2 linked regions of the Homo sapiens genome follow. The protein of the gene in region 1 interacts with the protein of each later gene in a pairwise test. Each region holds a gene or a part of one and is shown in the gene's direction. Other genes may lie near its edges.

Region 1 (3,013 bases):
TGTTTATTTCATAGGGAAATCAGAGCTCTAAACCTTTTCTTTGAACTTTAAGTATAATGACAGCATAACAATAAGAAAAGCTTTTCCAGAAGCATACCCATATGAACTGTAGGTTTCTTTTTAAATCAAGCCTTAACAAGGAAGGACCTTGAGGGAGTTGCCCACAATAGTCCTGAGATTCTGAGAAATAAGCAAGCTGGGTGTTTAGGATACTTGCTTGGTAGGGGTGGGGAAATGGTGAAAAAGAGTGTTAAAGGAAGTGGGAAATGGCTTCGTTGCAATTTCTTTTTTGGATTTCTCTATACGTGCAGCATGGTCAGTTTGGTGATACGTGTTCTCCCAAACCTCCCCCGCCTTCCCCAGTAGCTGGTTATAGAGCCAAGATGTGGCCTTTGGGACATAGATAATGCCCTTTTAATGACACTTGAAATTAATTCCTTTAGTGTAATCCTCTAGCAAAGAGATGAGAAAACTGAATTTGTAAAGCTTAATTTTACCCAGAGATTTTGGTGTAGAAAAGGGCCATACATTTGTGAATAGATGCTTAAGTAGGTGATGAAAATAAAATATCATTTGAGCAAACTGTCCTATACCAGAAAGTCTCAGGCACCAAAATAGCTTGGCAGGTTGTAAGATAATGTTCACTTCAAGGCTTTATCCTCAACAAATTAAAACTAGAACAGTTGACATAATAGAAAGGGATACTGTGTCCTTGGTACTCTTGTTTCTGAACTGCATTATTATAAAATGTGTCTGTCAGTAAATCATAGAGAGAATGTGGTACCCTGTTAAATAGCTGTCAACTCTTCTATTTTCAAGTTCCTGTACGATTCTCAAGTAATTCTAAACCTGTTGGAGAAGTAATATTGGTTTCCTTTTTTGCAAAAGTGTGTTCCTTTAGTGATACTTGTGTTCTGAGGCTTCCAGTTACATTTTTAGCAAAGAAAGCATTTCTTAAATAATGGGTAAAGCCTTATAATTGGGAATGTATGTAGACTGTTCTTTTTGTTTTGTTTTGTTTTTTGTTTTGGAGGGGTTACAGTTGGTAGGATCTATTGATTAATGTCTTTTGTGTATCTGGTATTGGGTAAATACTGGAGACAGTTTTAATCCCACCTAGCTTCATACATTGTACTAAGAGACTGAATGTACTTGAGTAGAAGCAATTAATTCCCTTCTCAACAGAGGCATCTCTTATTTAGAAAAATGAACAGATGATATTATTTGGTTACAACTTTTAAGATGACTTCTTAACACTGATCTCAGAAAGTGGATTTCGATAACAACATACAGTTGTCTCTCACACTGGCTGCACTATCCATTGGACTGTGGTGGACTTTTGATAGATCTAGAAGTGGTTTTGGCCTTGGAGTAGGAATTGCCTTCTTGGCAACTGTGGTCACTCAACTGCTAGTATATAATGGTGTTTACCAGTAAGTATTAATCCTTCAATTTTTGGTGCTTGTTTGCTAGATAAATAAATGATAACCGCTTTCAGAATTGAGATTATGAAATGAGGTTAGCCAGTTTAATCTACAGAGTAGTTTATTTTCATTGTAATTATCTTAAGTGTCATTGCAGTTCCTCTGTGGGTATTAAAGACATGTCTGTTATTCTAGATATACATCTCCAGATTTCCTCTATGTTCGTTCTTGGTTACCATGTATATTTTTTGCTGGAGGCATAACAATGGGAAACATTGGTCGACAACTGGCAATGGTAAGCTGATGCTCACTTTTCTGAATAAGATGTGGAACAAATGACAAGTTTTCTCTAAAAGGCAGTCCTTTAAGGGAAAGCAATTTGTGAAGACAACATTCTTTGATTGCTTTTTTGCACTTCCATTGAAATAAATCATTTGGAAGAATTTAATCACAGGTGTTTTAAAAGTTGAGGAGCCACTGGAGAGAAAAACTCAAAATGTGTTATGGATAGGGCAATATGATTTATTGACCATATGGGGGATATTAGTGGTTTTTAAAAAACTAATCTACAGGTCTCCCACTATATCAGAAAAGGACAGTTTTAAAAGTTAAAAAGGTCACTACTAATAAGTGTGTTGCTACAATAGGTATACATTAGGACCACCTCTAACAAATCAAGATGTTTGATCATTTTAGTGATGAAGGAAAAGGAAAAGGCTAGGGAGTGACATTCAGAGGCCACAGCAGTTTTATGAATCAGTGCTGTCACTTTTACCTTTTTAGCCAGGTTAGGAGAATTGAGTGACTTACTTTGCTGTATTTTTGGTAAAATAGCCAACCAATTATCTTACCCTGTTGGTTTCCTTTATTTTGAATTGTGGGTGTACATTTTTATAGCTGTACTTTAAAAATGTTGTTTTGACTGGAAGCTTTTGTTAATGTAACAGATTTTTTCCTTTATATCATATAGCAATTTGAAAATACAGTGATCTGAGTTCACCACAACAGCCCTATCCTTAAGTTCATGAACTATTCTTTGCTAATTTGCCTTATTGAATACTCAAAGAAACCTGCTTTGCTTCCTTTCGACATTAAAAGATTGATCTAAATTCTAAATCATATACTGCCACTACTTGCTTGTAATGCAGAAATCTCATCTTTCTCTTGCTTTTGGCTGTGGCTTTTTCACTTCCAGAATGTGAATTATTTTTTTCCCTGTCACATTTGTCATTTAATCATAGTAATTATGTAACTCTTGGATTATTTGAGGAATAAATGGGCACATAGTAATAAAATGTTCATTTTTAGAGCTTTTCAGTTTATTTGGAAGTTGCTATTCAAAAGAAGTCTTAATCTGTTAACCTTTTAACCTTTTAATTTTTGCAGTACGAATGTAAAGTTATCGCAGAAAAATCTCATCAGGAATGAAGAAGGCAAAAAATATCTTTTGTACAGAAAAGCAAGATGAAAAGGATGTGAAATGGTAGATATACCAACAAAACTTCAGACTGTAAAATTGCCAGGATGCAGTTTTCCCCTTGATTGGCGTGTGTGTATATATGGATAAATATATATATACACACACACAT
Region 2 (3,500 bases), on another chromosome or scaffold:
AGCAACTCATTCCATTTTTTTAAATGTGCAAACCAAACAATACATGTCAAAGGGCCAGCTGTAGCCCAAAGGCCCCAGTTTGAGATAAGCACAATACTCTACATCCCATTTAGAACTGGAAGGAATTGTAAGACACAGATCCCATTTTACACATGAAGAGGCTGAGGTCAGAGACTTGCCAGAGGTTTCCCAGAGTTTGTGGGAAACTGTGTCTCCCTCCACTCACTCTGCCTCATAGGTGGAGTCAGTCTGGGGACAGCCTGCCATCCCAGGAGGCCAGGCCACCAAGCAGACCCCTCAATGCAGCCAGGGACGGCAGCTCCCTCCTCAAGGAAGGCCACTAGACAAGTTTCAAAAAATGTAGGTGACAAACAGGCAAGAGAAAACGCCCTCACAGTTGAAGTGAGTATGGCTTGTCAGGCACAGAGAAGAGAGTGCTATGCCAGCAGGAACTGGCCTCTTTTGACCATCCTTGCTGCCCCAAGTTCATCTGCTCCCCCTGCCACCATCGGACTCACAGCAGAGCCCAGAGCCAATGGCCATGGGGACAATGGGCTTGGACACAACCCAAGCACTTCCACAGGTCTCCCAGCCATGATGTAGGAAGCTCAACCAGGACAAGATGGAAGCCACTGGGGTCCCAGAAGTTTTCCACTTCATAGAGACTGTGTTGAGGCCCCTCACAGCTCCCTCAGCTTCTGCCTCCAATCTGTGCATTGACGGACACTCGAACGAGTCCCTTAAATGGGGTACACAGATGTCCAAAAGCAAGGTCTATGCTGTGCTCTTGGAACTTAAGCAGGAGGGAAAAATAAAAAAAACAAATGTGCCCCTTTCCCCCTGAAAGGCAACCAGGCCTACAATCTCAGGAATCTAGAGTCTGAAAAAGTCCTTGCCCGTCCCTGTCCCTTGGGGTAAACCAAGGATCACAACAGTCACGGATGCCAGCAGGCTAGGAGATGGATGTCCCTGACCTGACCCCAGGACCTGTGCAAGTGGAGGAAGTACCTGGGGATCAGGGAACATGGCTCCTGCATACCCAAGCTGACAAGGCACACCAAGTCCAAACTCCAAAACTCCTGACACACAAGCCAAAGTAAGCATGATTCCTCTGCTCTAGGTCACCAGAACAAACACACAAGTTGTGTTTGGCTTTTCCCTAAGAGAAGATCAACAGTAGCATTGAAACCCCCTGTATTCCTATTCCCAATCTCATTACCCTCCACCACTTGCCAAAGGGAGCATCCCTGGGAATTTGGTGTTCAGCATTTCCACCGACCCTTTTCAACTATTATATACGTATATATTCATAAACAAGATAGACTGCGGGATTTACGTCTTTTAATTTTGTACGAACAGTATTATACTGTCCACATCACCTAACAGCTTGCTTTTTTTTTTTTTTTTTGAGAAATAGGCATGTAAAGAAAATAGCTACCTCATGTATCTGAACTGCTGTGCAGTTTGCTTGCATTTATCCATTCTCCTGTTGTCAGATTCATGTGGATTTTACGTCTCGCTTCTGTGAACAGACTTGTGTGTGTCCCTCTGCCCACATGAGGGCATATGCAATTGAAGCAGGACTGCTGGGTCGTGGGAGTCACACATCTTTAAGAGGTCTCCAAGGTCATTGTTCACTTCACACGTTCCCTAGCAGTGTCTGAAGATCCCTGTTTCTCTGTGCCTTCATCTATATTTGGAATTGTCAGACTTTTTAATTTTTTCCAAATGAAAACAGTGAAGCAGATCGCAGTAGTTTTAAATTTGATTTCATGGGAGGCCTACCACATTTCCACGTGTGCGTTGGCCATTCATGTGTCCTCTTCTGGAAACATTGGGTCCTTTGCCTGTTTTTCTATGGGATTGTGGTTTGGGTGGGTTTTGAAAATTAATTTCTAAAGTTATTGTTTTATATATGTTGCAACAGTCTATTCACAGTTTGGAGCTGGTCTTTACACTTTGATAATAATGTCTGATAGATTGCTTATGTTAATTTAGTCAAATTTGCCAATATTTTTCCTTTGTGGTTTATGTTTTTTAGGGGTTTCTTTAAGAAATCTTTTACTATCTACAAGCCTGTCCAACATGGCAAAACCCCGTCTCTACTAAAAAATACAAAAAAATTAGCTGGGCATGGTGATGTGCACCTGTAATCCCAGCTACTCAGGAGGCTGAGGCATGAGAATCACTTGAACCCAGGAGGCAGAGGTTGCAGTGAGCCAAAATCATGCCACTGCACTCCAGCCTGGGCGACAGAGCAACACCCTGTCTCAAAAAAAAAAAAAAAATTTACTGTCTACAAAGTTACAAAGATATTACCCTGTATTTTCTTTGAAAAGTTTTAAATGTTTGATTTTCACATGGAGAGCTCCAATCAATGTAGAACTTATTTTTATGTATGGCATGAACTAATTTTATCTTTTCCATACAAATAGAAGATTCCAAGCCACGTTGAGTGAATTTTTCTCCAGGTATTTGTAATGACATCTCTCTCATAAATGCAGGGCTTGTGTCTGGATCTCTCTTCTCTTCTACGGGTCTATGTGGCTACCCTTGTACCAGTTCCACACTTTCTTAATTACAATTTTATAAGTTTTGTTATCTGAAAGTTAAGTCCCCCTACTTTGTTCTTGAAAATCATGGGCCGGGCACAGTGGCTCACGCCTGTAATCCCAGCACTTTGGGAGGTCAAGGCTGGCCGATCACGAGGTCAGGAGATCGAAACCATCCTGGCTAACACGGTGAAACCCCGTCTCTCCTAAAAATACAAAAAATTAGCTGGGCGTGGTGGCGGGCGCCTGTAGTCCCAGCTACTTGAGAGGCTGAGGCAGGAGAATGGCGTGAACCCGGGAGGCAGAGCTTGCAGTGAGCCAAGATCACACCACTGCACTCCAACCTGGGTGACAGAGCGAGACTCTGTCTCAAAAAAAAAAAAAATCATGTTAGCTATTCTTAGCCTTTTACTCTTTCACTTGAGTTTCAGTATCACCTTTCAAGTCTACAAAAAAAATTATAAGTCTGGAAGTTTTATTAAATGTGCATTACATTTATATATAAATTGAGAGACTATCTTTATAATATTGAATCTTCCCATCTATAAATATGATATAGCTTTTCTTTTACTTAGGCCTTTTTTAATACCTTTCTATAAAGGTTTGTAATTTCTTTCATAAAGATCTTACATGTCCTTTAGATGTATAAGTATTTTCTAGTTTTGTGAATATCATAAATGGTGTCTTTTAAAATATATATATATTTGTTTCTAGTATATCAGACCCAATTGATTGACTGACTGATGCTAATGTATTTAGAACCTCATACATTTTCTTACTTACCAGTTATAATGGAAAATTACTTAGATTTCTTCTGTGGACAATCCTATCATTGGCAAAACAAGAAAGTTTCATTTCTTCTTTTCCCATCCCTATACTTTTTCTATTTCTTGTTTTGCTGTGCTTACTAGGGCCTATATATAGTATAATTTATAAAACAGGTAATAA

The links. Proteins that work in one complex are often made in the same cells at the same time.
Region 2: the proteins of INSIG2 (region 1) and SLC10A1 interact in a two-hybrid assay, tested with the Homo sapiens proteins (one large-scale study listed by BioGRID).

What each region holds. Positions count from the first base shown.
Region 1 is NC_000002.12:118,105,471-118,108,483, forward strand, and holds part of INSIG2 (insulin-induced gene 2 protein), read left to right. Parts: intron 1-1,266; coding exon 1,267-1,433; intron 1,434-1,619; coding exon 1,620-1,719; intron 1,720-2,810; coding exon 2,811-2,852; coding exon of another isoform or gene 2,853-2,892; 3' UTR 2,893-3,013. UniProt on the Homo sapiens protein: Oxysterol-binding protein that mediates feedback control of cholesterol synthesis by controlling both endoplasmic reticulum to Golgi transport of SCAP and degradation of HMGCR.
Region 2 is NC_000014.9:69,790,742-69,794,241, reverse strand, and holds part of SLC10A1 (hepatic sodium/bile acid cotransporter), read left to right. Parts: intron 1-3,500. UniProt on the Homo sapiens protein: As a major transporter of conjugated bile salts from plasma into the hepatocyte, it plays a key role in the enterohepatic circulation of bile salts necessary for the solubilization and absorption of dietary fat and fat-soluble vitamins.